Homo sapiens: one gene and its partners. The protein of the gene in region 2 purifies or fractionates together with the protein of the main gene of each other region. This does not show direct contact. Each region holds a gene or a part of one and is shown on either strand. Other genes may lie near its edges. The genes, in order: AHCY, IPO5, SMS, MACIR, FBXO33, PREP and TNPO1.

Region 1 (3,500 bases), on a different chromosome or scaffold from region 2:
GGTGATCCGCCCATCTCGGCCTTCCAAAGTGCTGGGATTACAGGTGTGAGCCACCATGCCCGGCCAAAGCTGTGTCCTTTGTTACTCTGCCTCCATCCTGACCCCACATGCCGTCCATCCACCCCAGCACTCCCTAAGCTGAGGCTGCCATCATCCCCTGCAGGGATTCTACGAGCCTCCTCTAAAAGCCTCTCTCCCCACCACCCGCCATTGTTGCTTTTATTCTGCACACAGTAGCTAGAGTGATCTTTCTAAAACTACAGCCTCACCACATACAGCTCACCTGCCTGATACCTTCAGGGATGCCGGCTGCCCACAGGATAAGGTTGCCACGTCTGGCTGGCTCTGATGCTAGGCCCTCTTCTCCCCATCCCCCTGCACAGGTTGCCACCATCTCCTCAGCTCTCCTCCCTGGCAGCCAGCACTCCTCTGCACTCCCATCTGCCCAGCCCACTGGCAAGGCGGGAGCTTCTCACCTGCGGCTTGATGTTCACCTTCTCCACGGCGTTCTCGTTGAGCCACTTGACATCGATCTCCACGTCAAAGTGTCCAATGTTACACACAATGGCATCATCCTTCATCTGCTCAAAGTGCCTGTCAGGCAGCCCAAGACCGTGGGAGATTGTCAGGGACAGAAAGCTGTCCCAACTCTGCCCTCCTCCCTCACTCCCCGGGACCCCCCATCTGGCACCTACCGGCCAAGGATGATGTCAATACAGCCTGTGGTGGTGACAAAGATGTTGCCCTCCTGACAGGCCTCATCCATGGTGGTCACCTCATAGCCTGTGCAGAGACAGTGGCTGTGGGTCATCTACGGTGGCCTTGCCCCTCCCTCTGGCCCCAGTGGCTGACAACCAACCCTTGCCCTATCCTACCCTCCATGGCAGCCTGCAGTGCGTTGATGGGGTCAATCTCGGTGATGATGACGCGGGCTCCGAAACCCCGCAGGGCCTGGGCACAGCCCTTGCCCACATCACCATAGCCTGCTACCACCGCTACCTTGCCGGCAATCATCACATCTGTGGCCCGCTTGATGCCATCTATGAGGGACTCCCGGCAGCCATAGAGGTTGTCAAACTTGCTCTGAAAGGAAAGGGGGTAAGGAGACAATAGGGGCAGGCAAGGCCCTGGGGCCAGGACAACTTGGCCTCAGAGTATTCTGAAGAGCCCAGGCATCATGGGCCCACCAAGCATCCCGGCCTGGGCTGAACCCCTCCAGCACCCAATGCCCCCACAAGCCCTTCACCCCGATCGGCTCAAAGAGCTTCTCTCTAATCTTTCTCTGCCAGTGTGGAGCCTTCCTAGGCATCAGTTACTAGGAGAGATTGCCCGGTCAAAGACCTTGCTTAACTTGAAAGCTCTTCTTCCCAAAGCCATAAAGCTCCTAACACCCAGCTCTGACACCCCTTTTAAACGCACTCATTAGCCTGTCTATAACCGCTTTTGCCCCCTCAAATGAGGGCTTCATGTCCCTAATCTCAGCCTTCCTGGGCACTCTTCTTCAGAGGCCTCGTCCTGAGCTGCAGCCACTGTAGCGGGAGCTGTCACTGCCCCTCGGCTCACCTTGGTGACGGAGTCATTGACATTGATGGCAGGCACCTTGAGGATCCCATTGGCCATCATCTTGTAGAGGTTGTGGACCCCAGTCGTGGTCTCCTCAGAGATGCCTCGGATGCCTAAACAAGAGGGGACAGGACAAGCCTCAGAGATGCCACACCTGTGCTCATGCAAATTCCTCATCTTTACCCCCTAAAGCCATTCCTCTTTCTGGGTTCCCATCTCTGTGACTGATCCCACAGGCCCCCCAATCACCCAGACCCGCGTGAGGGAGGAGTCCCCAACGCCCTCCTACAGGGAAGCCACCACCAGGCCTAGTGACTCTGCCTCCGAACAACTCCCAGCTTCTCTATTCTCACTGCCGCTGCTCTAGTCCGTGACCCTGTCGCTTCTTCCCAGTCTCCCTACCACAACCCATCCTCCATGCAGCAGCCATTTCTAACATGTATCTTCTCAGAGAAATCTTCTCAACGCCCTCCAGTTATTTCCCCTTGCTCTGCAAATCAGGTCAAACACTTTTCTATTGGCCTATTAGGCCCTGACACATCTGGTCTTCACGAAGTTCACACCATACCCGCAGTGAAGGCTCCCTTTGCTCACTGCTATCCTGTGGGCCTCTTTTCTGTTTCCTGAACACTCCAGCCATTCCTGCCTCAGGGCCTCTGCACTCTGCGTACCTGCTTTGAACAAAGCTGGCTCCCTCCCAGCTATTCCCAACCATGGCCCTGTCTGTGCCTGCCCTTGGGCCATCAGCTCAGCTGCCCTAGCCTCGCACCCTCAGAAGTCAGGAGGCCCCAGCATGAATGCCAGAGCCTGCCATCCTCCCATCTTCCAGATCCTGCTGCTTGAGGTGATGGGAGTCCTGCCAGGCCTGCGGCCATCATGTGGGCAAACAGGCCCCACCCAGGCCACCAGCACCCAGCCCACCTGCCCCGCCCTGCTCACCTGGCAGAAGCTGCGGGTACTTGGTGTGGATGAGGTTGGTGAGGTCGCCCCCGTCGTCCAGAATCATGTTGAGGGGCCCGTCCTTGAAGTACAGGGTCTGCTCAATGCACCACAGGTACTCCTCGTCCGTTTCGCCCTTCCAGGCATACACTGGAGGGTGAGTGGCACATCAGGGCCTGGACTTCCCAACTGGTACCTGCTCCAGGGAACAACTCTGGCAGAGCCAAAACTACCTCCTTCCCAACTCCCATCCCCAGCCACCTCCGGCCCCTCTGAAAACTCAGCAGTGGTCAGGACACAACTTGGAGCCAGATAGATCTGAGTTCAAACCCTGGCTCTGCCACTTGCCAGCTGTGTGACCTTGGGCAAATCACTTCACCTCTCTGAGCCTCAGTCTTCTCCTCTGTAAATAGGGCTCACAATAGTATGGATTAAGTGAGACAGAAGCCATGTACAGCCCCCCGCCCCAGATATAGATATCAGGAAATCATTCTTTCCTTTCCCATCCCCTTCTGCCTGGGCGCCAAGGACTGAGGCATCAACCCTGAGTGACCAGGGCTTGATACCCCACAACGCCTCCCCCTCAGCAGGATCCACACGGCAGGATCCAGGGTTTGCTCTGCACTGAAAGGACTGGAGCACTAGCAGCCTCTGTGTGGGGGAATCTCAGGCAAAGTCTGGCCAAAAAATGACTACGAGCAGCTACCATGTGTGGGGTACTTGCTTTCTGCCAGACATGACTCTAAATCCTCCATACCCCATCTCATTCTTCCTCATAGAAACCCTGTGAGGCAGCCATGACCATTATCATCACTTACAGATGCCCAGAGAGGAGCTAAGACGCACTTGGGCCACTCTAAATGAAATTCCAGAATAGACACCAGAACTGAGGGCTACTGACCACCAGCCCACACTCCTCCCATGTGGCATGACTAGGGCACAGGTGTGGGGTTCCCAGGAGCCTCTTGTGAGCAAAGGACGCTGGCCAAGCAGAGCCA
Region 2 (3,500 bases):
CCGCTCTTCAGATAGGTACTGGGTGTTTCTCACATGCCAGGCATTAAACTATATGCTGGCTGATACAAAGGTGAGCAACACGCCTCGTCCTTACCACCCCTCCCTACAGCTTACAGTCCCCTCAGTCTCCCTACTGTCAGCAGTCTGCTAAGTATCCCTCCTGCCTGTTATCTCTGTACATACAAAACATACATGTATATTTGCATATCATTTTGCAAAGAAAGCAAACAACAACAAAACATGCTTTCTTTGCAAAATGGTATGTTTTCCTATTTAAACTATTACAGTGTGGCAATGTAAAGTCAAAATTTAATTCAACAATTATTTATTGAGTGCCTTGTTATATGTTAGGCATTGGGAATACCATCAAGATATGACAAACATTTATGATGTTACTATAACAGTGTTGGAACTGCCCACCATTGAGACTGAGCAGATCAGGAAAATCTTGTAAAGGATGAGAACTGTGAGCAAGCGTTAGCTGGGTATGTATACCTATGTGTGTATGTGCGTGTGTGTCGAGAGGCAGGGGTTCCTCCTAATGAAATGCCTTTGTCTGTTCGTTGGCGGAGAGGCAAGCAGTGTGTCCTGAGATTCTTGGGTTCTGTATTTTCTGCCAGGGGAGGGAGATCATGCAGCCTTCAAAGGGCTAGGAGACACCCAAATGGAGATGTCTATTACATGTTGGATAAATGAATCTTCAATTCTGAAGATCTGAAAGTTGCAAGCACACAGAGGAAACCGGAAGCCATGTCTGTGAGTGACACTGCTCCACAGGAGTGAGAAGAGAGCCTTGGATAGAACCCACAAACACCAAAACTTGAGTGAGAGTCACAGAAAGCAAGAGCAACCTACAACAGACTGAGAAAAAGTAGCTTGAGAAACAGAAGGAAAATCAGTGAAGAATGTCTCTGCTAGCAGGGGTTGATAGTATGTCAAGAAACCTATCACTCCTTTTGTTTTAAATATATTGAACCATGTGCTGTCCACAACTCATTAGCGGATCAAAGCAAATGCATTAAGACCACTTACCTGAGGATCATCATCTTCCATATCATTGAAGTCTGTCTGGGTCTTTAACAAAAGCTGCATCACATCTGATGCATCCTGCATGAACTAGAGGAAAATATGTAGAGACACACTTGTTGATACCGAATTTTGTTTCTTGTGTAATTAGCAAAGCTTTGCCAAAAAATCGACTACATTGCCCACATAGGTCATAACTTTCATAGATAAACTATCATATTGAAAAATTCTCATCTATATTGTGACAGATTTAGTTCACTTTCTAGAAAAATATATTTTCCACTGAAGGGCAGGGAACTACAGTATAAAGGTACTTCTAATGGCATCAGGTGTTAGTCTATGGCTTACGCATTTCAAGCAGTAAAACTGAATTCAAATTCAGAAAGAAAATTTTAGATTGTTTATAGAATTCACTGCATAAAATTTTGTCTATGATTTTCACTTAACTCTTTGCAGTTCTGGTAATCTCCATTGTATAAACAGGCAGCGTTTTAAAGAGACATTGAAAGCCAGATATATAGAGTATGGGACATACAAATATTTTATTGGTAAAAAACATACCAATGTTTTAGTGGTCAGCGTCTCACAGAAACCAGTTCCAAATATAAATTAATACTGATGCTGGTTTTGAAGAAGGCAAGACAGAGCTTCTCTGTTGATAATTCTCAGGGTCAGAACATGAGGATTCAATGACAGAGAAACTTCTTTTGCATTAGCTTGAACAATTCTGAGATGTTGGCTGAGAAACACACTGGCCAATGGTCCTTGGTAATTATTTTCTGAAGATCTATATGCATAGATTTCTCTCTTAGAACACTTGATGCATTTTAGATTAATAGGAAAGCAAGTGACATGTTTCCAAGCACATATTTAAAGGGAACGAACATGGATACTGACTTCCACACACCTCCCACGAGATGCACTGTGTGTGGTGGGGAAAGGAGGAGGCATCAGGAGCACAGCTGAGCTAAAAAGAAACCTTAATATTAACAATGAAAAGACGGGCTGGGCGCGGTGGCTCACACCTGTGAGCAGACTGCTTGAGGTCAGGAGATCAGGGCTAGCCTGGCCAACACAGTGAAACCCCATCTCTACTAAAAAAAAAAAATACAAAAATCAGCTGGGAGTGGTGGCAGGTGCCTGTAATCTCAGCTACCTGGGAGGCTGACGCAGGAGAATCGCTTGAACCCAGGAGGCAGAGGTTGCAGTGAGCCAGGATCATGCCACTGCACTCCAGCCTGGGTGATAGAGTGAGACTTGGTCTCAAAAAAAAAAAAAAAAACACCAAACCAAACAAACAAACAATGAAAAGATGAAGGCAAGAATTTGTATATAAAACAGGAGCAATGTGAAAGGAGTAAGGAAAAAAACAAGCATCCAGAAAACCATTTTTCAGAAGGAAAAAATCCCTCTAGTACTCTCAATGCCTCCACAGCCAAGTTAGGTACAGTAAATTTAACATAATAGAAATTACAGGCCGGGCACAGTGGCTCACGCCTGTAATCCCAGCACTCTGGGAGGCCGAGGCGGGCGGATCACGAGGTCAGGAGATTGAGACCATCCTGGCTAACACAGTGAAACCTTGTCTCTACTAAAAATACAAAAAATTAGCCGGGCGTGGTGGCGGGCGTCTGTAGTCCCAGCTACTCGGGAGGCTGAGGCAGGAGAATGGCATGAACCTGGGAGGCAGAGTTTGCAGTGAGCCGAGATCGTGCCACTGCACTCCAGCCTGGGTGACAGAGCGAGACTCTGTCTCAAAAAAAAAAAAAAAAAAAAAAAAAAAAAAAAAAAATTACTTACTTTTTCCTTCCCAACAGCCAGACCAATGAGGCTAATGCATTCAATAGTTTTTCCTCTCAGAAGTCTCAGTTCTTTTTGAACCGCATTCTCAACGATGTGCTTCAGTGATGGCATAAATAAATCATAGTAGGGGACAAATTTTTCTTCTGCAGTATCGGCAACTGATGCAATGGATGTCACAACTTGTTCCAAAACTAACTTGGTGCCTTTCTGAATCAGCTAGAAGGAAGACACAAATTATTACCTCAAAGGAAAACTGGAAGAAGTATTTAAATTTACAATTACTACTCCCTTCAAGTTCTTGAATGCTTTTCTGAAACAGCAGAATGAGACCACCTCTCCAGAAGCAGAGACTGTAGGTTTTGGAGGAAATTTCTATAAAAAGAATCTATGTTGAACTATTTATGTGAGATTTTTTTTTTCTCTCTTCTATTAACACAACACCTCTAACTCATGTTAGTCTCATCTCAAAGCACAGCTAATTCTTGAGTACAGATACGGAATCAAAATTTTTGTGTTCATCAACTTTAATGCCTACACTTCATCCTCATTTTTTTCTTCACTGATTTCCTCTACTTATGATTATATTTTGTGCTGTCTTACTACGTCATAAAGAAAATTCCCTCTTTGGCCCCTTCCTTTATCTTCTAACCCCCTCTCCCCAGAAGATCGCA
Region 3 (3,500 bases), on a different chromosome or scaffold from region 2:
AAAAGGAACTTAATCTTCTTTTCTCCTCATGAGATGGCTTTAGAGAAGCCATTTTGGAAACTGCTAGGCAGCAGACACAGTATCAAAGTCCTTTGCTCTTTAATCCTCAACTAGGTAGATTATTTGTTTGTTTTTGAGACAGAGTCTTACTGTCACCCAGGCTGGAGTGAAGTTGCGCAATCTTGGCTTACTGCAACCTCTGCCACCTAGGGTTCAAGCAATTCTCCTGTCTCAGCCTCCCGAGTAGCTGGGATTACAGGTGCCCGCCACCATGCCTGGCTAATTTTTGTAATTTTAGTAGAGGTAGGGTTTCGCCATGTCGATCAGGCTGGTCTTGAACTCCTGACCTCAGGTGATCCACCCGCCTCGGCCTCCCAAAGTGCTAGGATTACAGGCATGAGCCACTGTGCCCAGCTGATTATTTCTTTGTTGATGGCCACATAAAAGGGTACTGTTACTAAATTGTCTGTTCAAGGCAGTCTAGGTAACACATTTGCCTCTAGTCTGTGGTAACATTAATTTGAGTTGTGAGACACTGAAGGAAGGAAACAAAAGAAGCCCACTGAACTTGTTCTCTTATACAACAAAGGATATCTCTACCATAGTGACCATCTTTGGTTTTAGTTTGACTATTTCACACAATATGCCTCCGTCTCCACCTCCCAGAATGAGTACATCTTTGCCAGTGTAATCTTCTTTGCCACTGCCCATGATGGCCCGGGTATATGCCAAATCACTCTCTGCCAAATCTAGGGAGGAGAAACAGATCCAAATGGTGAGTCTACCTTAACACACAAACCACCTGGCCCCACCACACTGAAGAGCTGGGATCTAGACCAAAATGTAAATTTTTCATTTTCAATTTTTTAAAACTGTGAACAATTTGCAAGCTTTTTTTCCATTGAGGACTTTTTCATCAACCCTGATCATCTGACACCTAATACAAATGGACATTAGTCAGTGGGAAGAAAATCCAGCCTTAAAAATGTGTCAATATACCGAATAACTAAAAGCAATTACATCTTTACAAATGAAATAATATGATGTCTGTGAGCTGCTTCAAAATAATATGAGAGGGACAAAGTGGACTGGGGTTTAGGTAAAATAAGACTGGCTAGGAGGTGGTAATTGTTCACACTCGATGGTAAGTACATGTGGGTTCATCACACTAGTTTGTCTACTTAGGTTTGAATTGTTCTGTAACAAAAAGGTTTTTTTTTTTAAATATGCAAATGCATTTTCTTTTGAAATACAATCCAAATACTCATCACTAAGGAAGCAATGTCAAGACAAAGTTTATGTGAAAGCCCAGACAATCCACAGGTTAATATGACATAAATGTGCATCTCAAAAACCAGCAGTGTCAAAAACAAACTCAAACAAATCCACGACAGTAGTAATTGTCAGGAAAACACCATCATTCAACACATCACCACTTTGTTACGTGATCGGGGCAGGGATGGAATACTTACTAACATCCCCACTAAGGATGAGAATATTTCCAAACTGCTTCGAGTGTAGAATTTTTATATTTTGATAAGGTGAATCTTCGTCATATACCACTTCATCTATGTCATATTCAACCAGGCGCCCGTCGGCGGTGGGCCAGTATCTGTCGATGGCTCCTCCTCGCACTATGGGTGGTAATCTGGAAAAAGAGAAAAACAGAAATGTACCTTACTAGAACACTGCCTTACAAGTGGAGCTAGGATGAAGAGTGTGCAAAAGAAAGCCACATGACTGCCGACTTTTGACAAGCACAAAACGAATCCAAAGCTTGGGCTTTTAGTTTTATATAATCACGGCCACCACCAAATGTTGACAACTATTGTACACAGTTCACTTTTTAAAAAATCCTGTCATGCTTTAGATTTTCTCTAACAAAAAGCTGAAGGAGAAGATGGCCACTGCACACTTCATATTTCAAATGCTCCAGCAGCATCTGTCTCTTAAGACTATCTACATAACTACATGGACATTACCACATTTACACCAGTTCACATGGGTATGATATGGTTATCTAGTACAGAGTCCATCTTCAAGTGTCCCCAGTTATATCCTTTATAGATGTTCTGCTCTTGAATAAAGGCTCATACACTGCATTTCCCTGTTTTTTTTTTCTTTTTTATCCTCATGTAACGTATAATTTTTTTTTTACTGGTATGTTTCATGACACTGATATCTCCAAGTACAGACCAGCTATTCTGCTGAAAAATGACTCGTGGGTTTACCTGATAATCTCTCACTCTTCATGGTTAGAATCAGGTTGACATATATTACACAGGCATCACATCGGGAACACAAGATGTGTATCTGTCCTATTATTGGTGATGCTAAGTCTGTGATCACTTGGTTAAAGTGGTATTCATGGGCTCTCTCCATTTGCAAAGGTACCTTTTTCACCCTCTGAAATTACTAAGCAGGCTGTGGGGTGGTGCTCTGAAACTAGGTAGAAGTCCTCACCCCCCAACAAACCTTTACCAGTGGTTTTAGCATGCAGAAGATTCTGGCCTGAACCAGTTACTACTACAGAGGCTGCAAAATGATGATTTTTTCATTCATTCTTTTGTAAATACCCGGTATTTTTCACAGGATGAATGTACTAGAAGGTACCAGCAGAGGACACTAAATGACAGGAAAAAAAAGACCTGGAAAAGGGGCTTGGCAAGTCTAACCCAAACACAAAGAAAACGAGAGCTCACTGCATACATAACACAACTGCGTGAGTCATGTGTTCTCAAACACAGTAGTGTTCAACATTAAAACGCCATGATGTACAGCTGTAGACATGTAAAATGCTGGGATATGCGGCCTGACGTACTCTTATGAGTCTCTTTCCCTTCCCTGCTCACCAGCTTCCAAGAGTACAGTCTAAACCTGTTACAAGTTAACAAGGCTTTCTATGAGGGAATACTAACATCTATAAAGAACACCGAGATTGAAAAGGCAAACTCCCATAAATTCATGTCATCCTGACAACTCTTCATTTAACCACTTCTTCACCTTCCATGTGAACAAATTCAGCTTTCAGAATGTGAGGCATTCTAGAGGGTTTTTCTTGTAAATTGTAAAATGTGAAGCACCAATCAGGACAACTGCTAGAGAGCAGGCGAACAGGACTTGGAGGAAGCCTCTTCCACCCCTGGCTGATGGTGGGGAGTGAGGTGAGAGTGAGCCACCCATGGCATTGGATGAACGACAAAGTCACTCACTTCCAGGGGAGGAAGACTACCCTCTCCTTGACAGCCAGCCACCTATCGGCAATTACTGCACTACAGGCAAACCCACTGAAACTAAACAGTGCCTGTTCTCAATTGTGTCAATAGTGCCTTGGCTAAGGTGAAGAGCTCTTTCCTACATTGTAACTCTATGGTTTTTTTAAAGACTAGCAAAGAAAGAAGGATCTTAACAGGATGTAAATGCCATTACCCTGATGAAGTGCTCAACCTAGCATTAAAGGGCATCTCGCTGGTAGCCCTATAACGGGCTACCAGGAGGTA
Region 4 (3,500 bases), on a different chromosome or scaffold from region 2:
AGACTGATGCGAGGCAAATGATTAGAAGTCTCTTGGATAACACAACAAAAAAAGAGAGTGACTGAAAAAGCACTTTTTTATAGTTACCACCTTACTTAAGGTTTCTAGCATCTCCTCTGTGCCTTCCCTCTCTTACCTGGGAAGTTAATGTGTAAGAGAATCTATCTTTATCTCCTACCTCCCTAGTTAATAGGGTTAATTTGCTGAGACGAGGAAAACCCTCCAAAGTCCTTTTCCACCTGTAAAAGTTTCTTTGGTTGTTGGTTTTCTGTTGGGTTAAACAACAGAAGCAGTTGGAGGGGTGTCAAATGAAGCGAGTAGATTCATTTTATCTATGTAGGTGCACAGAGCCCAAGAAGTGTCAACAGTACAATACCTTATCAAACAAAAGACAAACTGCAAGAAAAAAGGCAAGGAGTTTGTAACTTTATTACTTTCCCTACCAGTACAGGAGAGTTTTATCCAAAGGAAATAGATAATTACTGAGTTTAATATGTGCTTCTTTAGCTTGAGAAACTGGAAGGAGCCAATGCACCAAGAACTGTCACTCCAAGAAACTAGCATGTTTATCAGCCTTTGCAACTTCTTCAGATGTAGATAACAGAAACACTCCCTTTCATGTATTTTGCCACCAACTATTCTCAAATTGGGGAACCAAAAAATCTTGAAAAGTAAGCCTTGATTCTACCCCACCAATGAAGCCTCTGGTTTTAACACACAGTAAATTGTAACAAAAATTGTTACCTACAGACAAAATGTTTATTTAATATAATTATCCCAAAGAATTTCCCCAATACTAATAACATTCATCTGCATTTCTTATTTAATGGATTTTTAATGGGAAAGAGGAGTTCTAAAAACGAACATTTCTTTAGCATCTTCCTTATGTCAAAAGTGATATACAATTTATATCATTTAATCTTAACTACTCCATGAAGAAAATATTATTATCCCATTTTTAAAGTACTCTTTAGTAGTAGCCCTATTTTAAAGTACTCTTTTAAGTGATACTACATGAGAGTCACAGCAGGAATTGGAACCCCAATTGGTCTGACTCCAAAGATCATTTACTTTACACTCTGGCCTCTGTTCAATGATAAGACAACATGTATAGCCTTTTACACAATAATCATGATCCCGCAAAATGTATATCAAGTAATTTCTATAAGTGAAAATCTATTTTAAGTGTATGGGTAGGCACTTTATCTAAAAGCTTTATTGCCTCATTTGTGAAATGGTTGGGGGAACTACTTAGCTGCATGGTTATTTCCAACTTGAAAAATATTAAGATTTGGTGGCACATCGTGGAAAGTCTTATACAAAATCCTTCTGAATCATGGACTCTTTCTCCTATGAGCTTCTATTTTCTAAAATCATAAATTATGCGACAGAAAAAAAGGTATCAACCAATACCGTCTGGTTATATGGTTGGATATCAAATACAGTTATATATTTCCGCTTTATTTCTCAAGACTACATCTATCACAAAGTGGGATAGATTTCATTTATACTTTTATAAATGTCAATTTAAAACAAGCAGGAGGAACATTAGAAATATCTGAATGTCTTAATCCTAAAGAATAGTTTTGACAGTCTTAAATCTCATTCAAACTTTCATATAATTTGCCTCATGTATTTGGTGACATATTCTTCTTTTTAAGCTTTTAAATGCATTAGAAAAATATTTACACTTTCAAAGAGTTTCTTTTTCAACATCAAAAGAAAGAAATCAACTAAAACTTTAGTCTGGATTTGAAAGCAGAGGAGCCTTGAAGACATTACCCAACTCTTGCACTGGAGCTGATGTGTAAATCTAGGAAATGATCGGTAATTTCATAGTAAACAAAGAGTAGTAACTGATTATTCCTATTATGCCAGTGCCAAGCCAAAAATAGAATATAAACACAATGTCCAAGGGAGCAACACAAGAAAACCAAGGTGCAGAAGCTCCATTACATTCTCACTTTTTCTAATTTTGACTCTGCTTCCTGCTTTGTGGGAGGAGGAGGAAGAGCAGGAGGAGGAGGAGGAAGAGCAGGAGGAGGAGGAGGAGGAGGAGGAGGTATATGGTGAAAAAGAGGGAAAAATAAATAAAAAGAACAAGACCAGAAACTAACTAGTATAAGATTATACGTTTTCTTTAAGACATAACCCATAAAGAAATCTACTACAAAATTACAGTAAGGGTTCTACCCCCATCTCCCACTTATAACAATTAAAAGATTGTAATATAAAAATTCCCAAAACATGTACCTTTCAAATAACACACATTTTTAGAATACTTTAAAAATCTATAATTCTCTAACGCTTGCAACTGATTTTGGCCAATGTTCTAAACACTGAAGGCTTGGAAAGATATCAACAGATTTCCTCTCCAAAACAGTCAGCAAGAGGAAAAGGAATCCATGTGAAATTCTTAGAAGATAGACTAAATGCTGCATAAAAACAAAGACTGAAGTAAATAGAGCAAAGGCTACAAGATATAATAAATGCTTCCAGTTATAAGAAGCTGAAACAGAATGCAGTGGGACATTATCCCATAAGCAATAAAAATAGGAAAAAACCAAGCAGTGGCCAAGAGCTGCCCACAGACTTCTGGATAAGAAAGTCATGGGTGACTAAGCAAAAGACACCCAACATTTCACTGCAAGTGGAGCTTCTACAAATAGAAAAGTTTGCAAACATTAACTACCAAATGTATCGAATTTCTCAGGTGATAGTTATTATCACAGGTAAATAAGAATGCCTTTCAAAAGAAGAGTGACTATATATCTCAATTCATAGTCAATACCCTGGCATAATTATTGAAAGCAACCCCCTTTAACTCTCAAAAGTGTCTCAGTTTGGCTGTTTCATTTGTTATCCTACTCAAAAGCAACATGGAAAGGCAATGACTTTTTTAAAAAGGGAAACACCCTTCTGCTTGAACGGTGAATTCCCATACAGGTCTGAGTTCTTTCTTCGGGTGTACCCACTTAGATATTCACTTATTCAGTCATTCAACAATGTTTCTTAAGTCTTATTATATATCCCCACACTATGCAGGCACTGGTGCACATATAAAGAGATGGCCTGAGACTGGGTCAGAGGGGAGGGCAGACATGGAAATAAATCCTTCTAATAACAGTAAACCTGAATGGCACTAGGAACCCAAAAAAGGGAGTGCCTTTCCCAAAAATATACAAAGCTCCATTTGGAAATGTTTATGTCCATACAAAATTCGTAAACACACAAAAAAGTCGTGAATCTCAAGCTTCAGCACAGATCACTAACAAAACAGCAGTAAGAAAAAATTTAACAACATTGATCACAAATCATAAGACTATAAATATGAGGACCAGCACATAGCCCTTTCAAATATTGGTAAATAAAAATCACATTCATCATTAAAGTTTATATTATGAAAGGACAAATTTTAGGCAGAGAAATTGGTACAGTAGAAGCTGTGAGTTCTAATTCTAGCTATCAAAACATTTATTTTCATTTTTTTCATGGCCCTA
Region 5 (4,069 bases), on a different chromosome or scaffold from region 2:
TTACACTACATTTTGAGACAAACAGAATGAATATGCTACCAAAGCAGCATGACATACAACACCATGCTAATAGTAGATGACAAGCAAACCTTAAAATTAGGGATGACGGGTGTGATGTTTTTGCATAGAAGTGATAGCTGACCCAGAAGGGCAGGCATCGGTGGCCTTATAGAGAAGCAGATTGGGATGCTAATAAAAATTGTAGGGGTAAGGAAGAGAAGGACAGGAGAATTAAGCTACAAAGCAAAGATGTGAAATATCTCCATTTTGCCTGTATGTTATCCACCCATCCAACCAACCAGTTATTAAAATACTTAAAAGGAACTAGACACTTATCAAGTCTTGTTCTTACTTGGGTCAAAGGCACATACAGTGTTTGCATGGTTGCATAAAAGTGCAATTTGATCTCAGTACAGAAAAATCTAATTGGTACTCACTCATTGAATTCACCCTCAACCTTGGTCTCATTAGTAAGTGCTCACTGACTGAAACTTTGCAACTTTTGGGTCAGTTGGTCCTCTAGCCATACATTCAACTCTGAGAAAGTCTCTAACCTAATCTGTTTTTAGCTTCAATGGCCTCTCCTGCCAGATAAAACCAAAGTAAGGAAATAGAATGTCTTGCGAAAAGCTGTGGAAACGCACAGGCAACTGGAATAATGGAGCCATATCCCAGATACAACTTGGAGCTATAACTTATCTCTTGACTTCTAAATTAAGACACAGATTAATGGCGCATACATATATATATATAACCTTATATCTATATATATCTCCTAGCATTAAACCAGGGACTGCTCTCAACCTTGTTCAACATAATGTTCAGTATATTTACTGCAAAAGGACACGCTTTCGGAGAAAAACAATGCCGTACAGCAATGTGCAAATCACTTGATCCTATAAAGGGTCAGTTTCCTTTCTGTAAAACAGGGTTATTTATCATTACCCTGCCTCATAGTGCCACTGAGAGGCTCAAACAACACAGTGAATGTGAAACTGCTGAAGTATTTTTACTATGTAAGGTGCTCCTTTTGTGAACGTCTAAACTTTCTTCTAATAAGAGCTTTACTGTAAGGTTCTTTAGAATATCCATATAAAGAAGATCTAAATTAATAGGGTTTTGGAGGTGGCGATGGAGAAAAATGATGATTGGGAGGGATACTGGGTCAGAATATAAGGCGTTAGTTCTGGAATTACAGTGAAGTCCTGATGCAAAACCAGAACAGTTATGTGCTTACCCTCTGCAGACCCTGGCCAACTCCCTCGCTGCCCGCCCGCCTCCTCCGCCCGACTGTTACTTTTAGGTGAACTACTGGGGAGAAGTTGAGTGTGGTGGTGTATGGGGAGGGACTTTCAACCCTGAAGATCAACTTCTTCCCCAATCCCTTTAACAAACACTCCTCCTCCTCTTCGGGCCTTGTTCAGTTAGCCGAAACTATTTCTGGTAAGAAAATGGCTGTTACAAAATTTCTTTTAGGCAGCGTCCTATGAGTACCTACTCCTTCCCTCACCATGAACTATTTCTAACAGATTCAGAGTCAGAAAATCGTGTTATGTGTATGTTTTGTTTCTTCCAAGGCTCACCCACAGGCCTCACCCTCCCAGTCTTAACGCTCCCATATATAAAATGAAAAGTGACAGCGCCTGTCAGCTCCATCCCACGGCCACCAAGAGGATGAATGAGTGCCTGGAAGGCGCCAGAAGTGGTGTCTGTTAAACACCCCGTCCACCACTGTTTATAAAGTATCGTGATGAGTCCCGTTATGCCTTTCCGCTCAAGGAAACCGCCTAGTTAGAACCAACACTCTCCGTCACTGAGGAAGGCAACACTGAAGTTGGCCGGGCACGTATTATGCACAGAATCTGTGTCGGGGTGCGGGGACGGAGCGACCCCCCGTTACCGGGCGGGGCGGGGCTCAGGGCAAGCCTACCTGTTGTTCCGGATGCTGACCAGCACGCAAAGCACCAGCTCCAAGTAGGTGCGCAGCACTTCCAGCCAACGAGCTGAGAGCTGCAGGGCCTCGACTTCCTCCCCTCCAGTCCCGGTGTCCGCGCCACCTCCGTCCCCTGGGCCACCGCCGCTCAGATAGTTCTCGGCGGCGAATTCAACACGCAGCTCTCGCACGAACCAGCCGCACTTGCGCATGAGGAATTCCAGCCGAGGCTGCTCCGCGGGCGAGACGCGGAGGCAGATGCGGAGCTGGGGCCACAGGGCCGGATAGAAGAGGCACTCACGCCAGTGCGAGCAGGAGGCCGAGGCCCGCAGCCGGTCGGGCGCCGGCAGAAAAGAGAAGATGTGCACGATCAGCTCGCTGGGCAGCGACGCAGCGCCCGCCGCCTGCCCGCACAGAGCCATCCGGCCCCGCCGCCGGCTGCCGGCTCCCGGCCGCCCCCGCAGTACCCGGAGCAGCCCCCGCAGCCGTCGCAGCTGCTGCAGCCGCAGCCGCCGCCACCGCGCCACCCGGGCGGCCCCGGCTCGGGTTCGAGCTCCCGGCGGTCGGGGCTGCGGCACTGACAAGAACAACAACATCAATGACTAGGAAGAAGGGGGCGGAACCGTCGTGGGTCTCGGCGGAACCAAGTAGAACACAAGTTGTGGAGAGGGGGAAAGGCCTCTGCGGGCGTGGCCTGCCGGGAGCCAGCCTCTGTCTTCTCAAACTCTACTCACGTGCGTCCGAGGCCGGCACACTGAGTAACTGCACTGCCCTCGCTCGTAAACTTCAGCGGCCCGGAAGCCTCAAGGCGTACTGTAAGGAAAAGGCAGCCCTCCCTGCGCCGGTCGGCAGAGACAGAGAAGTGGTAGGAGCTGAGTTTGACGTCGCCGCTGGTGGGAGGAGTCCGGCGCGCACCGGCGCGACTTCCGGAAGAGGGGAGCGCCCGATTGCCTGTAGGGACGGGAGGCGCGGCACGTGATCTCTGACGCACGCAGGCCGCGGGGCGGGGCGGGGCTGGGCGGGGCGGGGCGGGGCGGGGCTGGGCGGGACTGGAACCGGCACTTGGCACCCCTTACGCCTTACGGTGGCCGCTGCGCCCAGTCACATCTGTAAGTCGGTTAATTTTGGCGCTCGGTCGATGGAGGTGGCGGTACTCTGGTTTAGTGCGAAAGGTCGTCACGCTTCTTTGTAAAACGTTTCTCAGTTTGGGCTGAGGACCCTGAGCCAAAGTGGCGGCATGCAGGGTCTTTCTCAGCCATCCCACCTGCCCAGAGTAGGGTTAAGAATTCCTGAGATTGCGCCGCTGAGAGGGAGCTGGCGGACGGGCGGGCTAACCCCGGCGGGCTGTGCCGGGAGGGGCGGTGTGGGGCGTGGCGGAGGCCGCGAATGGACCTGCCCCCTCGGTCCAACCACGCAGGTGGACTTCCGCGCACTCGCTGGTGTGTGGGGAAGCAGTGAGGACAGCGTCACCCTTTGGATTCAGAGGGAGAGAAAAAAATTGGCAAAGGGATCTGAGATCCGCAGGTTGTGACCAGCCTCTTCTCCAGGGCTTGAGGAAGGGTCTCTTTTCCCTGTGCTGAGATTTAAGGCTCTCGTTGAAAAGTTCACAGTAATGACAGAGCTTTGATTTTTTTTCTTTCTTCTTCTTCTTTTTTTGCCTGGTATCCCTAACTTAGATTTTCCAAACCATGTCCCTAACTTCACCACAGCCTACTGCAAAGTAAACTCTGGTTGCAAAGAGTGGTGAAGTCAGAAAAGATTAAGTGACTTTATGTAATAATCGAGGGTTGCTTTAGGGAGGCTGCCTCTTTATGTAATAATTGAGAGTTGCTTTAGGGAGGCTGTGATGTTGGAATAGCATCGTTCTTTTGTGGTAAACACCAAGACTTTTTGGACTTTTTTTTTTTTTTTTGGTTTTAAGGAGCGGAGAATTTAATAGGCAAGAAAGAAGGAAGAAGGCTGAAGGAAGAAGCTCCCCACTACAGAGACAGACGGAGGGGGCTCCCAAGACGAAAGAGGAGACCCCCATTCTAGATGTTCTTAACCCTTTGAGGGCAAAGCTCTCCGTTTAATGCCTTGCACATATCAGGTTGCCAACAACATGGTGTGGTTTATCAATTGTGATAGGTTACTTAT
Region 6 (3,500 bases), on a different chromosome or scaffold from region 2:
GAGACCTGAATTCAGATTTGCCAGGAAAGCATCCCTTCCTGATGTAGAATTGCCCATCTCCCCACTGGGACAAGGAAAGGGATGGAGTGAAGAGCTTAGCCAGAGCATGATGGTATATGGAGAAAAGAGAGAAAGTAGAGGCAGGGGAGTAAACCACATGATCATCTCTTTCTTCTTCCTTTAGTCTCAAGCACTGGCTCACCTGCTTTCTGCTATCCTCACCTGTTCTTTGTGAGTAGTGTCTCTCCTTTGCCCACTGCAAAGCTCTTACAACTTCTTTTTATCCTTTGTCCCTAAAGTAAGCACACTGCTATTTTGAGATTTCCTAATGGTTTTTACTTTTATCTGCAATCCTACATTCTTTCTCTAACTCCCTTCAAGAAAGACAAAGATCTCATGGATGAGAATGGTTGATATTTGGGGTTTAATTTTTCTTTCCAGAAGCACTGGGTTATAGTAGTGGATGGGCAGAAATTCCAAAGTGAGAAACACCTGAGTATCTTTAGGAATGGTGAAGGCTGTAGCTCTGCAGGTAAGTCTGAGGGGACAGAGAACAGGTGTGGGGTTACCTCCCCACTTCATCCCTGCCATAGATTACCTTGATTGTTCAACACTGGGCTGACTGAGACAGAGGGATTGGGTCTGGGAGTGGAGAGTCACATGCACCTGCATAACCTGTACTGGCTAGAAAGCACCAGGGAAAGGATGAAGTTCCTGTGCATCTCTTGGAAAACTGTCTCTAAGGACCTGATGATTTCTTCACCTGAAGTATCGGCTATAACCTGGATTTCTACAGCCTTTGATGGTGATTGAGTGATTTAGCACTGTCAAAATGACCCAGGTTTTATCTGTTAGTGAATGTATACTTTGCTGTTCCTTAGTTGATAATGACAGGTTCGTGGATGACAAGCCACTTATTAGTGGATATCAGGCTTCCAATTAGTGGATGAAACTGCTAATTAATGATCTTATAGTCAGCACTTGATAGAAACTAAGACATTGGAGTATACACTATTTTTGTGGTATACATTTCTTGGATGGTTACCATGTGCCAGGCACTTTACCGGGAGTTCTGCATTCCCTGTTTCATTTAATTCTCAAATTCTGAAATATATCTTTTTATTTCCCCCATTTTACAGATGAAGAAATTGAGGTGCTGAGTGATTAAATATGTTGTCCATGGCTACTCAGCTAGTAAGTGTGTAGTCAAGGGTAACCCAGGTAGACGAGGTGGTTATCAATTACACATTAAAAAATAAGTAAAAGTAAAAAGACTGGGTGTAATACTTTGCAGATGCGAGCTAAAGGAATGTATTCATGTCTGTGCTTGCCATGTGCCTTTGTAGGCCCTCAGGTGTGAACCCTGGGCCAGCCCCCACTCCCATGCTGACCTGTTCTTTTTTAAAATATATATATTTTTTAAATTGTAATAATTCAGAGTACTGTGATCTTACATCCTTCTCTGACTTCATATTCTACCATGGCAATTTTTCATGTTAGAAAGCAATCTTTGCAGCCCAGAATTTTAATAGTGATACTATTTCATCAGGCAGATGCACTATATTATGCCTAATGACTTCTGTTGGAAATGATTGTTTTCAACTTTTCACTATTACAAATAATGTCCCAAATGTCCCAAACAAGCACTTTTCTAGATCTCCACATTTCTGACAATGACATGATTACTTGTTGCAGTAGCCTTGAAATCTCTTCTCCATTCTCAGGTATTTGCTTTTTGTCGTTGCTATCAAATGGGTTCCTTTTTCATTATTGATGGCATATACAAGTGTTACTGACTCTTTTGTTAGAGACAGGGTCTTGCTGTTGCCCAGGCTGGAGTACAGCCATCTTCTGGGCTCCAGCCATCTTCCTGCCTTAGCCTCCCAAGTAGCTGGGACTACAGGCGCACACCACCATGCCTGGCTAAACTAGCTACTGCTACCGATTTTATATTTATTTTGTACCTAGTTCCCTTACTGAACTCACCAAATTTTCAGTTATTTCCCTTAGATTTTTAGATACATAATCATATAACATATAATCAAATTTAGTGATAATTCTATTTTCTCTTCTATCAAACTTTGGTTATTTTATATATTTTGTACCTAGTAATTTTTTTGAACTCACAGATTTGAATAAGTTTTCAGCTATTTCCCTTAGGTTTTCTAGATACATAATCATATCATCTACAATCAATTATTATTTTCTCCTCTACCAAATTTCGGTTCAGGTCTTATTGAATTGGTCAAAGCTCTGCAAAACATGTAAGAATAGTAGTGAGAAAGAACTTTCTAGCCTAGTGTTTAAATTGTTATTTTGAATGATATTTGTCATCTTGTTTAAGCATTGTTATTCCTACTTTTAGTTTTGGATTTTGATTTCTTTTTAATACCAATCAGGGTAATTATATAGCTTCACTAATATATTAATATTAAAATGTCCTTGAATTCCTGTGATAAAATTCCATTTTTAATCTGTTTTTATGTTCCTTACAACTATATTTACAAGAAAAGTTGGTCAATATCTTGTTATCCAATATAATAACCACTAGCCACTTGTAGCTCCTGAGGACCTGAAATGTGGCTAGTCTGAATTGATTACATGTTGTAAGCATAAAATACATGCTGGATTTCAAACACTTAGTTTGAAAAAAAAAAAAGTAAAATACCTTAATATTTTATATGGATTACATAAAACCAGTCAGGACATTAGAAACATCTGTAGCTCTCTTATAAGATCTGAAATAGAGTTTCGATTTAATCTAGTATTTAATACAGGTTGGCCAATCCTGCCACTGCCTAGCATTTAAGGCTATATCCTTTATAAAACAAAATCAGAGAAGACTTGTAATGGAAAATTCTCAAAAACAGAGTTGAAATGATTTGTGTGTAGTGGATTAAATAAAATATATTATTGAAATTAATTTTTTTTTCCTTAATGTGGCTACTAGAAATTTTTAAATTGTATATGTAGCTTGCATAATGTATCTACTGGACAGCGCTGCTCCTCTGTTTCTTTACAAAATATCTCTGTTAACATATTTCATATCAGCGTTAGATTTGCTTCAGAGAATCAACTGAATTGTGTGTTGCCTTGTACAGTCTGAAGCATTTGCTATAAAATAGCAATATGGGCCTTGACAGCTAGAAAAGATTCATCCAGATTCAACTCTCCCTCTACCCCCTGCCCCGCCCCTGTTTTTGAGAATTTTCTGTTACAAGTCTGCTCTGGTTTTGTTTTATAAAGGATATAGCCTTAAACGCCAGGCACTGTCAGAATTAGCCAACCTAAATTAAATACTAGATTAAATCCAAGACCTACTGGTAGCATTTCAGATCTTATAAAAGAGCTACAGATGTTTCTCACTTCTTGAATGGTTTTTATTGGAAATGTAATAAGCAGCTTTTTGTTTTAGAAGCTCTGTAAAGATTCTCCTCTTTACAGCAAGGTATGGCTAATACACCTTTGTGTATATGCTAATAATGTGAATAGAAAATGTT
Region 7 (3,500 bases), on a different chromosome or scaffold from region 2:
AATGAAAGCCCTGGTCATCAGCACTGTGAATTATTTACCGATTTCTTCCATAGCACTTGCCATAAATGATAATTATGTTGCTGCTTTGTATTTCCTACTAACCTGTAAGTCTCAAGATGGCAGGGACTTTATGTAAACTCAGCATTTAGTATATGCTTAACAATTAATAGCTAAAAAAAAAAACCGAGGTACTGAATGAATAAATTATAGGATCTCAAACATAATCTATATCCTCCCTCCCTTAATATCTTCCAGATATGACTGCTTCAGATGGATTAAGGTCAAACTCAAATTTACTATCCCTGCCAGGCGCGGTGGCTCACGCCTGCAATCCCAGCACTTTGGGAGGCCAAGATGGGTGGATCACTTGAGGTCAGGAGTTCAAGACCAGCCTGGCCAACATGACAAAACCCCATCTCTACTAAAAATACAAAAATTAGCTGGGCATGGTGTCGCACACCTGTAGTCCCAGCTACTCAGGAGGCAGAGGCAGGAGAATTGCTTGAACCCGAGAGGCGGAGGTTACAGTAAGCCAAGATCACACCACTGCACTCCAGCCTGGGCGACAGAGCAAGACTCCATCTAAAAAAAATAAAATAAAATTTTCCTTTTTTTTGTTCAACAGTTATTTTTTCCTACTATCAAGGTCAATGGTAAAAGCAAACCTACTCGAAAAATTAAGAACTATAAACATAAGCAGAAGGCCCTTTTAAAATATAAAGGTATATTGCAGGAAACTGGAATATTTGTAGTAATAAAAGCAACTGCTGGCTTGATATAAAGAGACAGCCACCAAACCAACCAATAGAATGGCTACTAGAGCAGAACTACTAAGCACTCAAAGACCTTTAACTGGTAAGTGACAGACCACAGGTCCCTGTGGGACTTTCTGAGTTATGGTGGTTGACCTGTAGTCTAAGGATGTCAATCTGCTCAAACGTTGTTATTCCTTCAAGAGTAGGAGTCCTGCCATCACTAGTTCAGATGTCTGAGGGAATTAGGGTGTAAGATAGTTCTGTTATAATAACCACTGAGTGGGAAAAATGAGCCAAAGAAGAAACAGCTAAGATCGATGTTGTCACATTTAGATCTACAAAATCATCAGGTAAAACCCACATGACAAAATTCTCCTGGCCAAACAAAATGTATAAAATACGCTAATATGCAAACCCAAAAGCTACAGATCCTGCAAAACACTTCACCAAGAAGAAAAAAGAAAACTAAGCTTTCTGATATAACTGGAAAATTTTCAATTACGAAACACTTCATTATAGGTTTAACACCAACACTCCATCAGAAGGTTGAAAATTAAGTTTTTCACTGCCACAAAGAACACTGTGTTATGAATCTGTCCCACCTGCAGGCAGCTTCTTGTACTCTCTTGTTGCTGTCCAGGATGCGCTTTAGCAATTCTGTCATTAATGGCTTCAGGTACGTGTCTGGCGGCTGGCTGACCACCCAGTGTGCATAGCGGCTAAGAGTCCAGCATGTTATGGAACGCACAAGAGCCTTTTTATCAGAGAGGCACTGAATAAGGTGAGGAATAAGCTCAGGCAAGTATGGAATCATGCCCTGCATGCAACCTAGAAAAAAAATAAATCTTTCAAAATGCTAAAATTTAGTTAACATTATTTTGGTTGATTATGAAAATAAAACACGTATCTATGAAAAAATTCAGAATATTTCTACTGCTATACACATACTACAATAACCTATACCAAAATTATTTTTAAAACCCTGAAGTTAGAGCTACCTGCTCCCAAGCATCTTACAGTGTTTCAATTTCTTCTAATAGATGTTTACTGCCAGGACAAAATCAATAATAACCCTTCATAGAGAATGAAGAGAGTCTTGCCTTATTGTGTTTCCTATACTTACCTAAAGAATCAAGGATTTTTTTTTAAAGCAATGGGGATGCTTCAGACATCAGAGCCTTTCATTCTGTTCCCTTAATTTTTTTGTTTTTATTTTTTATTGAGATGGAGTCTTGCTCTGTCACCCAGGCTGGAGTGCAATCGCACGAATTCAGCTCACTGCAACTACCACTTCCCAGGTCCAAGCAATTCTCCTGCCTCAGCCTTCCAAGTAGCTGGGACTACAGGCACATGCCACCACGCCCAGCTAATTTTTGTATTTTTAGCAGACGTGGTTTCGCCATGTTAACCAGGCTGGTCTTGAAACCATCTCAGGTAATCCACCCGCCTAAGCCTCCCAAAGTGCTGAGATTATAGGCGTGAGCCACCATGCCTGGCCTCTGTTACCTTTATTATAACAAAAACATTTTGCAAAATATCTAGCTGGGGTTAGAAGACGGCCTATGGCTGTTTAATACTAGTTATCTGGTTCAAAATAGAAATTCCTTAAAGTAGCCTAGCCTTATTAGTACCTAATAGTAGTAAGAAGCCAACTTACATAATTCAAACTGGACTTAGGCTTACCTTCAGCAATTGCTCCTAAAACCAAAATGCCTGATTCTTTAACAACCCATTCATGATGAAAAAGTAATTCTTTCAAAAGGGGCAAAATATGTGGCAGCAGTTCATCACGATACACATTTGCAAGAACATCCAGGGCAGCAGCAGAACATTTTCCTAAGGAAATATTTAATTCAAAAATATTACATTAACCTCTTATTACTTATATATTATTTATTGTATATGTAACATTTTATTCGTATCTCTAATACGGAGTTTTAAAATAAGAATTCAATTGAATAGGAGGTAGTTTGTCACGTGAAAACATTTTGTGGTTTTTTTTTTTTTTTTTTTTTTTGAGATGGAGTCTTGTTCTGTCGCTCAGGCTGGAGTGCAGTGGTGCGATCTTGGCTCACTGCAACCTCTGCCTCCCAGGTTCAAGTGATTCTCCCGCTTTAGCCCCCTGAGTAGCTGGGATTACAGGTGTGTGCCAGTACGCACAGCTGATTTTTAGGAGAGACGGGGTTTCACCATGTTGGCCAGGATGGTCTCAAACTCCTGACCTCGTGATCCACCCTCCTCAGCCTCCCAAAGTGCTGGGATTACAGGTGTGAGCCACCATGCCCAGCCAAAAACATTTTCTATTAAGATGAATATTTTTTATGACAAGAACTTACTTGGCAAATTAATTGTGAACACATTGTATTCTGTACATAACTGTCATACTAGAATTCTGTCTATACAGTAAAACAAATACTGTGCCACTCAATTCAGTGCTTCTAACATAACCATTCAATATGATACACTCATATTACAATCATGATTACAATCACTGTTACAATCACGCAAAAAACATACATTATTAACTCTACTTAACATTTCCAGCAGTATATCATCTAGAATTAAACAGACAATTACTTAGCTGGACTTTAGACACAAAAACTGGAAGAAAAGTCACTGGCACATGAAACATAACGCATGCTAGAAAATACTCTTTACAAAGAATTAACTATGGGACTATAAATCAACCCAGATTTTATTATAATAATAATTTAGACAAGAGCAACAAAATCAAAAAGAACAACA

Evidence for each region.
Region 1: the proteins of IPO5 (region 2) and AHCY fractionate together in Homo sapiens (co-fractionation; one large-scale study listed by BioGRID). This does not show direct contact.
Region 3: the proteins of IPO5 (region 2) and SMS fractionate together in Homo sapiens (co-fractionation; one large-scale study listed by BioGRID). This does not show direct contact.
Region 4: the proteins of IPO5 (region 2) and MACIR purify together in Homo sapiens (affinity purification with mass spectrometry; 2 studies listed by BioGRID and IntAct, with this or other methods). This does not show direct contact.
Region 5: the proteins of IPO5 (region 2) and FBXO33 purify together in Homo sapiens (co-immunoprecipitation; one study listed by IntAct). This does not show direct contact.
Region 6: the proteins of IPO5 (region 2) and PREP fractionate together in Homo sapiens (co-fractionation; one large-scale study listed by BioGRID). This does not show direct contact.
Region 7: the proteins of IPO5 (region 2) and TNPO1 fractionate together in Homo sapiens (co-fractionation; 2 studies listed by BioGRID). This does not show direct contact.

Annotation. Positions count from the first base shown.
Region 1 is NC_000020.11:34,289,856-34,293,355, forward strand, and holds part of AHCY (adenosylhomocysteinase), read right to left. Parts: intron 2,653-3,500; coding exon 2,503-2,652; intron 1,677-2,502; coding exon 1,564-1,676; intron 1,084-1,563; coding exon 876-1,083; intron 784-875; coding exon 696-783; intron 595-695; coding exon 477-594; intron 1-476. UniProt on the Homo sapiens protein: Catalyzes the hydrolysis of S-adenosyl-L-homocysteine to form adenosine and homocysteine. Binds copper ions.
Region 2 is NC_000013.11:98,005,675-98,009,174, reverse strand, and holds part of IPO5 (importin-5), read right to left. Parts: intron 3,046-3,500; coding exon 2,827-3,045; intron 1,117-2,826; coding exon 1,033-1,116; intron 1-1,032. UniProt on the Homo sapiens protein: Functions in nuclear protein import as nuclear transport receptor. Serves as receptor for nuclear localization signals (NLS) in cargo substrates.
Region 3 is NC_000023.11:21,975,209-21,978,708, reverse strand, and holds part of SMS (spermine synthase), read right to left. Parts: intron 1,649-3,500; coding exon 1,473-1,648; intron 750-1,472; coding exon 595-749; intron 1-594. UniProt on the Homo sapiens protein: Catalyzes the production of spermine from spermidine and decarboxylated S-adenosylmethionine (dcSAM).
Region 4 is NC_000005.10:103,261,763-103,265,262, reverse strand, and holds part of MACIR (macrophage immunometabolism regulator), read right to left. Parts: intron 1,370-3,500; exon of another isoform or gene 1,257-1,369; intron 1-1,256. UniProt on the Homo sapiens protein: Regulates the macrophage function, by enhancing the resolution of inflammation and wound repair functions mediated by M2 macrophages. The regulation of macrophage function is, due at least in part, to its ability to inhibit glycolysis.
Region 5 is NC_000014.9:39,429,634-39,433,702, forward strand, and holds the start of FBXO33 (F-box only protein 33), read right to left. Parts: upstream 2,801-4,069; 5' UTR 2,530-2,800; coding exon 1,931-2,529; intron 1-1,930. UniProt on the Homo sapiens protein: Substrate recognition component of a SCF (SKP1-CUL1-F-box protein) E3 ubiquitin-protein ligase complex which mediates the ubiquitination and subsequent proteasomal degradation of target proteins. Probably recognizes and binds to phosphorylated target proteins.
Region 6 is NC_000006.12:105,393,083-105,396,582, reverse strand, and holds part of PREP (prolyl endopeptidase), read left to right. Parts: intron 1-3,500. UniProt on the Homo sapiens protein: Cleaves peptide bonds on the C-terminal side of prolyl residues within peptides that are up to approximately 30 amino acids long.
Region 7 is NC_000005.10:72,886,161-72,889,660, reverse strand, and holds part of TNPO1 (transportin-1), read right to left. Parts: intron 2,592-3,500; coding exon 2,439-2,591; intron 1,584-2,438; coding exon 1,358-1,583; intron 1-1,357. UniProt on the Homo sapiens protein: Functions in nuclear protein import as nuclear transport receptor. Serves as receptor for nuclear localization signals (NLS) in cargo substrates.